2 linked regions of the Homo sapiens genome follow. The protein of the gene in region 1 purifies or fractionates together with the protein of each later gene. This does not show direct contact. Each region holds a gene or a part of one and is shown on either strand. Other genes may lie near its edges. The genes, in order: RGS13 and GNA11.

The links.
Region 2: the proteins of RGS13 (region 1) and GNA11 purify together in Homo sapiens (affinity purification with western blotting, with the first as the bait; one study listed by BioGRID). This does not show direct contact.

What each region holds. Positions count from the first base shown.
Region 1 is NC_000001.11:192,642,605-192,646,421, reverse strand, and holds part of RGS13 (regulator of G-protein signaling 13), read right to left. Parts: intron 2,092-3,817; 5' UTR 2,088-2,091; coding exon 2,023-2,087; intron 1-2,022. UniProt on the Homo sapiens protein: Inhibits signal transduction by increasing the GTPase activity of G protein alpha subunits thereby driving them into their inactive GDP-bound form. Binds to both G(i)-alpha and G(q)-alpha.
Region 2 is NC_000019.10:3,118,045-3,121,430, reverse strand, and holds part of GNA11 (guanine nucleotide-binding protein subunit alpha-11), read right to left. Parts: intron 2,508-3,386; coding exon 2,378-2,507; intron 2,226-2,377; coding exon 2,072-2,225; intron 443-2,071; coding exon 252-442; 3' UTR 1-251. UniProt on the Homo sapiens protein: Guanine nucleotide-binding proteins (G proteins) function as transducers downstream of G protein-coupled receptors (GPCRs) in numerous signaling cascades.

The sequences.
Region 1 (3,817 bases):
CAACAACTAGATAATTGAAGATGGCTATAGACACGCAAGCACTGTCCATTGGCTATACCTAAAATTAGCAGCCTAAAAATTAGTGCTGCAGGAACAGCCATCAGCATTAGCAGGTTCTTAACACAATGAAGGAGGATTAGTTAAAGAGATTAAAAAATATCCGAGAACATGGAAAAATATTGGGAGTCCTTAAAAGGTCAGATATCTTTTGTTTTCTAAAAATTCAGACGGATCCTGCCAGTTTTGGATGGACTGCTTGCATCAGTACTGAGGCTTAACAGTGTACTGTGTTAAGATTGCTTTCAAAAAACATTTCCATGAAATAGTATCTGAGTCATTGTTCTTTTCTCTTGTTAAAACTTTAGAAAAAGTAACCTAAAATAACCTTTTCAATCTGGTGAAATGGAAAGAGCTAGGCAAGGTTTATTGAATGCCTGTCCGTTCTAATCATTCCCATTATATAGGGAAGAATAAAATCTACAACACGAGTGAAGAGTCATCAATGTGTTGGGTTAGCTTAAAATTAAGTGTCGATGATTGTTGGTAAGAGAGTTCTTTTGTCTCTAAGACTCATGAGATTTATGGGGAGAGATGATTGGAGTAATTACGGTTGGGGGTAAAAATGGGAAATACAATTTGTTTTTAATTGAACCCCATTTTTGCTTATAATTTTTTTTGGAGGTTCTCACAAGTTTAATGCTGGCCCATGGCTATCCAGGTGCCTTTATTAGGATTATTTGAAATACCTTTTTTCCTGATACAAGTTCTCCCTTGTGTCCCCTCCATTCTTCTGGGCGGATGGGCAGTGGATACCAAACGGATATGAAAGCATTTTAAGATACCATGATGTTGCAGACAAAAGAATGAAGAATGTTTGGAGTCTCTGACAGTCCTAGGTTCTAATCCCAGTGCTGTACTTAATTGTCCTTGGTCTTACTTAAAATCTTCAAACCCCAATTTTATTGTCTATATAATAGGGATAATAACGTCTATCGCACAATGTTATAATGAAAATTAAATTAGGTCATGAATGCCAAGTACCTATTAAATAACTGTTATCTGGCAGCTTTCCATGAATGTGATTTTTAATTTTTCTGGTCTTCCCCTTTTCTCATGGTGAGTCTATAAGGCAGATAGAAGAAAGGCGAGCTCTGACAGTGATCCTCTATGGGAATCATTCGAAGAAAGGAGAGCTGTCCCTTAATTAGCAGATTATACCTTTGTCCTTGGATGCACCTGTGCAGTGCAGTAGCATTCACTGTCATTTAAAATGCTGAGCTTTGGGTCTTACTATCTCCTCTGACCACCATTGCAGCATCCTTCTCCTTGCCACACAGTAGCTTGTAAGCCTTTTTGGACATTTTGGTATTTTAGTGAAAGAGCATTCATGCCAGGGGCTCTGACCATACAAAAAGGTGTGGCCAGAACTGAGGGCTGGACATGGACTATGTTAGGCACTCATGGTTAATCTAACAGGGGTTCTCAACTTTTGGGAATTCTTTCAGGTGAGGAAATCCAATGCAATGGTCTGTTACTTTTCTCAGGCATTATTCTTTTCACTGTTCTCATCCAAATGGCAACATTTTGAGTTATAGAAAAGTGTGGAGGAAGAGACTTGGGAGCTTGGTTAACATTTGATTCCTCCTCCAGTCTCACCTTCTTTATCTAGGGATGAAGCTTTCTGGCACTTCGTATGTGGAGGGTTGGAACCAAGAAAATATTTTGGATTGAAGAATCTCATTTTAACACAAACAATATTCTTTGTTTTTTAAAAAGAACAGAGACTATTCATAATAGATTCTAAAGCATTTAACTTGCTGAATTCTCAAGTGTAAACCATGAATAATGAAAACAAGAATCTTAGTAACATATGACTGCTCTTCTGATGAAATGACTCACGTGTAAATGCAAATTTTACTTTCTGAACAAAATATGTTACAATAGCAGTTTAATAAATATGTACCTATTTATCATCTGATAAATATGCTTTACAATTACCATAGAAACTTAAATGCTACTTACTTTGAAGGGGGCCTCTTAGATTCATCTCTGCACATCTTACAAATCCAACAATTCCGCCTGCTCATTTTTCTAAGGAAATACAGTATATATTTGTATAATTTAATCATTTAAAATAATTGTATGTTACAGTCAGTTTCTAAGGAACATACAATATTATAAATCATAAAAAAAAAGATGGGCTCTTGAAGTTAATGGAATACAGTCACTGGGGGAGTTGGGAGGAGAGAGGAGAATAAAATGACTCATCTCTCATAAATATTTTATAAAAATATACGTGCTTAGATTTGTAAATGACTTTACTCAACTGGCCTATTTATTAAACAATGAGGTTCAAAAAATACCAAATCTCTGAAAAAGATCTTTTCATTTAGAACTTACCGATAACGAATTTACCAACTCCCAAGGCTTCCCTTTTGGGACAATTCTTATTTTTATTTTTATTTTTTTGAGACAGGGTCTCACCCTGTCACCCAGCCTGGAGTGCAGTGGCATGATCATGGCTCACTGCAGCCTTGACATCCCCAGTCTTAGGTGACCCTCCCACCTCAACCTCTGGAGTAGCTGGGACTACAGGCATGCGCCACCATGACTGGCTAATTTTTGTGTATTTTTGGTAGAGAAGGGGTTTCACCACATTGCCCAGGTTGGTCTCAAACTCCTGGGCCCAAACAACCTGCCAACCTCAGCTTTCCGAACTGCTGGGACTGTAGGCATGAGCCACTGTGCCCAGCCACAATTCTTGTGTTTAGAAAGCTCTCTCAATGTATTAAAAAAGAGCCTTATTTTAACTGGACAAGTAAAATAGTGTAAATAGCCAAATAAAAAATAAAGCACCTTCTGAGTGAATTTTAAGGGTGCTGCTTATCTGGTTTTATCTACTCTGGGCACAGTAACTTTGACTTTAAAATTCAGTTAGAGTTTATTCATCTCAGGCACCTTTACATAACAATACATATCATAGAAGGTTTTTAACTCAGGACTTTAAAAAAACAACTAACAAATTTGTTAAGAGTCATTAAATCCACATTTTAAAGCTGGAAATGGTTTGTTAAACATATATACATACATATATAATGAATTATTAAGGATAAACAGTGAATTTTTATATCAGTCTTTACGATTCATTCAAAAGTCTTTTGAATACTTGTTATGTGCCAAGTTCTGGCTGCCTGTGATCAATATACATCTTGTCTGTCCTCTTCTGTCCTCACTGACAAGCAATTAAAATACATGTGATGGGCTGGGCACAGTGGCTGATACCTGTAATCTCAGCAATTTGGGAGGCTGAAGCGGGGAGGATTGCTTGAGCCCAGGAGTTCTAGACTAGCCTGGGCAACACGGTAAGATTCTGTCTCTACAAAAAATAAAAAAAATTAGCTGGTCATGTTGACTCATGCCTGTAGTCCCAACTACTTGGGATGCTGTAGTGGGACAATCACTTGAGCCCAGGAGATGGAGGCTGTAGCAAGCTGTAATTGCACCACTGTGCTGTAGCTGGGGCAACAGAGTGAGACCCTATCTCAAAAACAAAAAACAAAAACAAAAAATCCCGAAATGTGATGGGGACTTGGATACAGGAAGTACAGGGGTTGTGAATACACCTAGGAGGAGAACCTAACTAGACTTGAGGGGTTAGTGAAGGCAGCCCAGTTAAGTAACATCTGAGCTGGAACCAGCAGGATATCCACGAGTGTGCTGAGTGAAGGAGGGGCAACTTGAGCAAAGATTAAGAGGCAATGAGTTATGTCCCATTGAGGAAATAAAAGGAATTTAGGCTCAGCACTGTGGCTCAGGC
Region 2 (3,386 bases), on another chromosome or scaffold:
GGCCAGAAAAAGGCTGCCTTTGCCGTTGACAAAAGGTGAGAAGGTGCGCGAAGTGTACGGAGGGAGAGATGTACATCCCCTGATAACTGTGAAATAAAAACCATTTGTTAAAAATATGAAAAAAAAAAATCTCCTCCCGCGGGCAGAGGCCCCGGCCCGGACTCGGCAGCGCCACCCGCCCGGCAGCCGCAGGCTCCGTGGAAGGAAGGTCCTGCCCCGTGTCTCCATCCCGTCTCCCTGGGCCTGGGCGCTCAGACCAGGTTGTACTCCTTGAGGTTGAGCTGCAGGATGGTGTCCTTCACGGCCGCGAACACGAAGCGGATGTTCTCCGTGTCGGTGGCACACGTGAAGTGTGAGTAGATGATCTTGTCGCTGTCGGGGTTCAGGTCCACGAACATCTTCAGGATGAACTCCCGCGCCGCCTGGGCGTCCCGCTGGGGACCTGGGGGAGGGCAGAGGGTGAGGCTGTGCCCCAGCCCGGCCCAGGGCAAGGGACTCGTGGGCCCCTTTGTCACTCCCAGGGGATGAGCGAGTAAGGCCCACGGCCCACCCAGCTCGACCCCCAGCCCACTGCATGCCTGACGGGCCGCAGCTCCCCTCCCTCCCCAGGTGAGCTGCGGTGCCAATCCCACTGTAGCCCCAGGGCACTACTGTCACGGCCCAGGCCTCCAACCTGGGGCTCTGCACCCACCGCTGCTCCCTCTGCTCAGCCCTCTGCCGGCCTCTATCCACTCAGCTCCACAGCCACAGCCTTCCAGGGCAGGCCTCTGGCATGGCTGCCCTGCGAAGGCCCAGGGTGAGAGGAGAGGCCCCCAGGGCTGGGCACAGAGCCTACAGAGCAGGAACAGTGGCCCCCACCCACCCACGGTGCCCCTGCTGCAGCCAGGCCTCAGAGACATCCAGGGGCTCCAGCAGGGGCGCTGCTTCCCACCGGCCACCCCTGCCCCTCCACCACCCTGGACAATGCAGGCGACCCGCCCAGTAACTCCTGCCTGCCCCGGTGGAAAGGCCCCTGGGGGTGTTCAAGGGGCTGCTCTGGGGACTGGTGGGACAGGGGTCTATGCCCCAGTCCCTTGGCCTCCCCCCACCAGGGCTCTCTGAGCCCACAGGACAGGCTGCTGGGCAGGGGCCACGTGCGGCTGGAGCAGGTGCAGCGCCCCCCGCCACTCCCCTGCCCAGGGACAGCAGGGCCCTGCGCCTGCAGCCAGCGGCCGAGGCTATACCGTGTGCCAGACCCCTCCCTCTCGCTGCACATCCAGAGGCAGGGCACCCTGAGGGGCCCTCCCGAAGATGACACCCGAGACTCACGGGAGGAGCACAGATCCGGGGTGGAAATGAGGGCGCCAGAGCTGCCCAGGGCCTCACTGTGCCTGGCAGGGACAGCTCTGAGTGGTGACAGCACTAACGGCAGCCACTGACCACACAGACGAGGGCACACAACACCCTCCCCTGGCCGCCATCCCCAGGCCCAGAGAGGGCTGGGCATGTGAAGACCCTCAGTGCTCAGCTGCCCTGACACACCCCGTGGGGCAGGGGCCACGTAGGGAGGGACGGGTCCGAGGGTGGGGGCAGTAGGGCACAGAGGAGGATGCAGGGACTACCACCAAGGTCCCCACGGGGCTGCGCTGGCAGTGTGCGTGAACCCTTCCTGTGAGACCCCTCCCATATGGGATCACCTATACAGGACACCCCCATACGACAACTCCCTCCCGTACAAGACCCACCAATACAAGACTCCCCCTCCCATGGTGCCCTCCTTGTACAAGACTCCTCCCACCCGAGATCCCCCTGCCCGAGACCCCTCCCACCCGAGACCCCTCCTGTATAAGGAGTCCCTGCATTAACAGATCTCCCACGGGTATGAGACACCCGCGTCGGAGAACTCATTCCCGTACAGGCCCCCCTCATACGAGATCTCCCTTCCCTGAGACTCCACTCCCATACATGACACCTCCCATCAGACGCCCTCCCTTAGAGCTCCCGGCCTGTATGAGCCCCTCTCCCATATCAGCCCCCTCCCCCCAGTAAGGCCCTGCCCGCGAGCCCCTCCCCATGCCGCAGCCCGGCGCACCATCGAACTCGGGGAAGTAGTCCACCAGGTGCGAGTACAGGATCTTGTCCTCCAGCAGGTCCTTCTTGTTGAGGAAGAGGATGACGGAGGAGTTCTGGAACCAGGGGTAGGTGATGATGGTCCGGAACAGGGCTTTGCTCTCCTCCATCCGGTTCTGGCGGGAGCGAAGGCAGAGGGAATCAGAGGGGCCCTCCCCACTGCACACAGCCCAAGGGGCAGCTGGGGGGACCCAGGTGAGGGGACCCAGGCTTGGCAGGTGGGGAAGGCCCGGCCCCCAACGCTGCCCCTGCTCAGGGCAGGGCCCACCTCGTTGTCCGACTCCACCAGGACTTGGTCGTATTCGCTGAGGGCGACGAGAAACATGATGGATGTCACGTTCTCAAAGCAGTGGATCCACTTCCTCCGCTCCGACCGCTGGCCCCCCACATCCACCATCCTGAAAGGACACAGCGCCAGGACTCAGCCACCTGGCGCCCCAAGGCCCAATCTGCAATCCCAGGACGGCTCCCACCCAAGCCCCTCCTGCCACACCAGACTGACATCGGCTGGAGCAGGAAGAGCCCCCACTCTTAGAACGGGCAAGGACGCTCTCAGAGAGCGGCCGCACCGCCTCCAGGGGTGACCACCGCAGACCCTTCCCTCACTGGCAAAGGGGCCTGAGACCACTGGGCCCAGGGAAGCGGGCGCTAGTGTGGGGGTGTGAGAACCCAGAGGATTCTGGGCGCCAGCTGCTGCGGGAACCTGCGATGGGTGCCCAGGGACCCTACATCTGGCATCTGGATGTCACCCTGAGCACAGAAGCCTTTCCCCTCACTGGGCCAGGGACACAGATGTTCACCAAGCGTCACTCGCAGGAGTAAACACTGATGCCACAGTTGCTCCCTGCAGGGACCCTCCAGTGACGGCTGCAGAGGGCAGAGTTGCCGGTATCCTCCTGGGGCAGAAGAGCAGGCGCAGCGCCCTGCCCCGCGTGGTGAGCAGCTCAACCTCACACTCTCAGGCCACGCACAGGCGGGAGAAAGAAAATCAGCTCAGACGATGTCTGCGGGCGTGCGTTCCTTACGGGACGTTTGCCTCTTTCTACTTGTGACTTTTCTAAGTTTTCTATAACGAGAAAAGGCACTTTGGTCTCCTTGAAAGAATACAAAGGCAGAAGCGGAGAGTGCCCCTCAGGCCCTGGCCCCAGGCCCCAGGGAAGGCCGGGGTCCCTGCAACTCTGCCGAGGAGAGCGGGGCTGCTTTGGGCATGTGAGTGGTGAAATCCACCTGGTCTGGTCTGCGGGGGAGTCCAGCAGGCACCGGTGGATGACAGATGT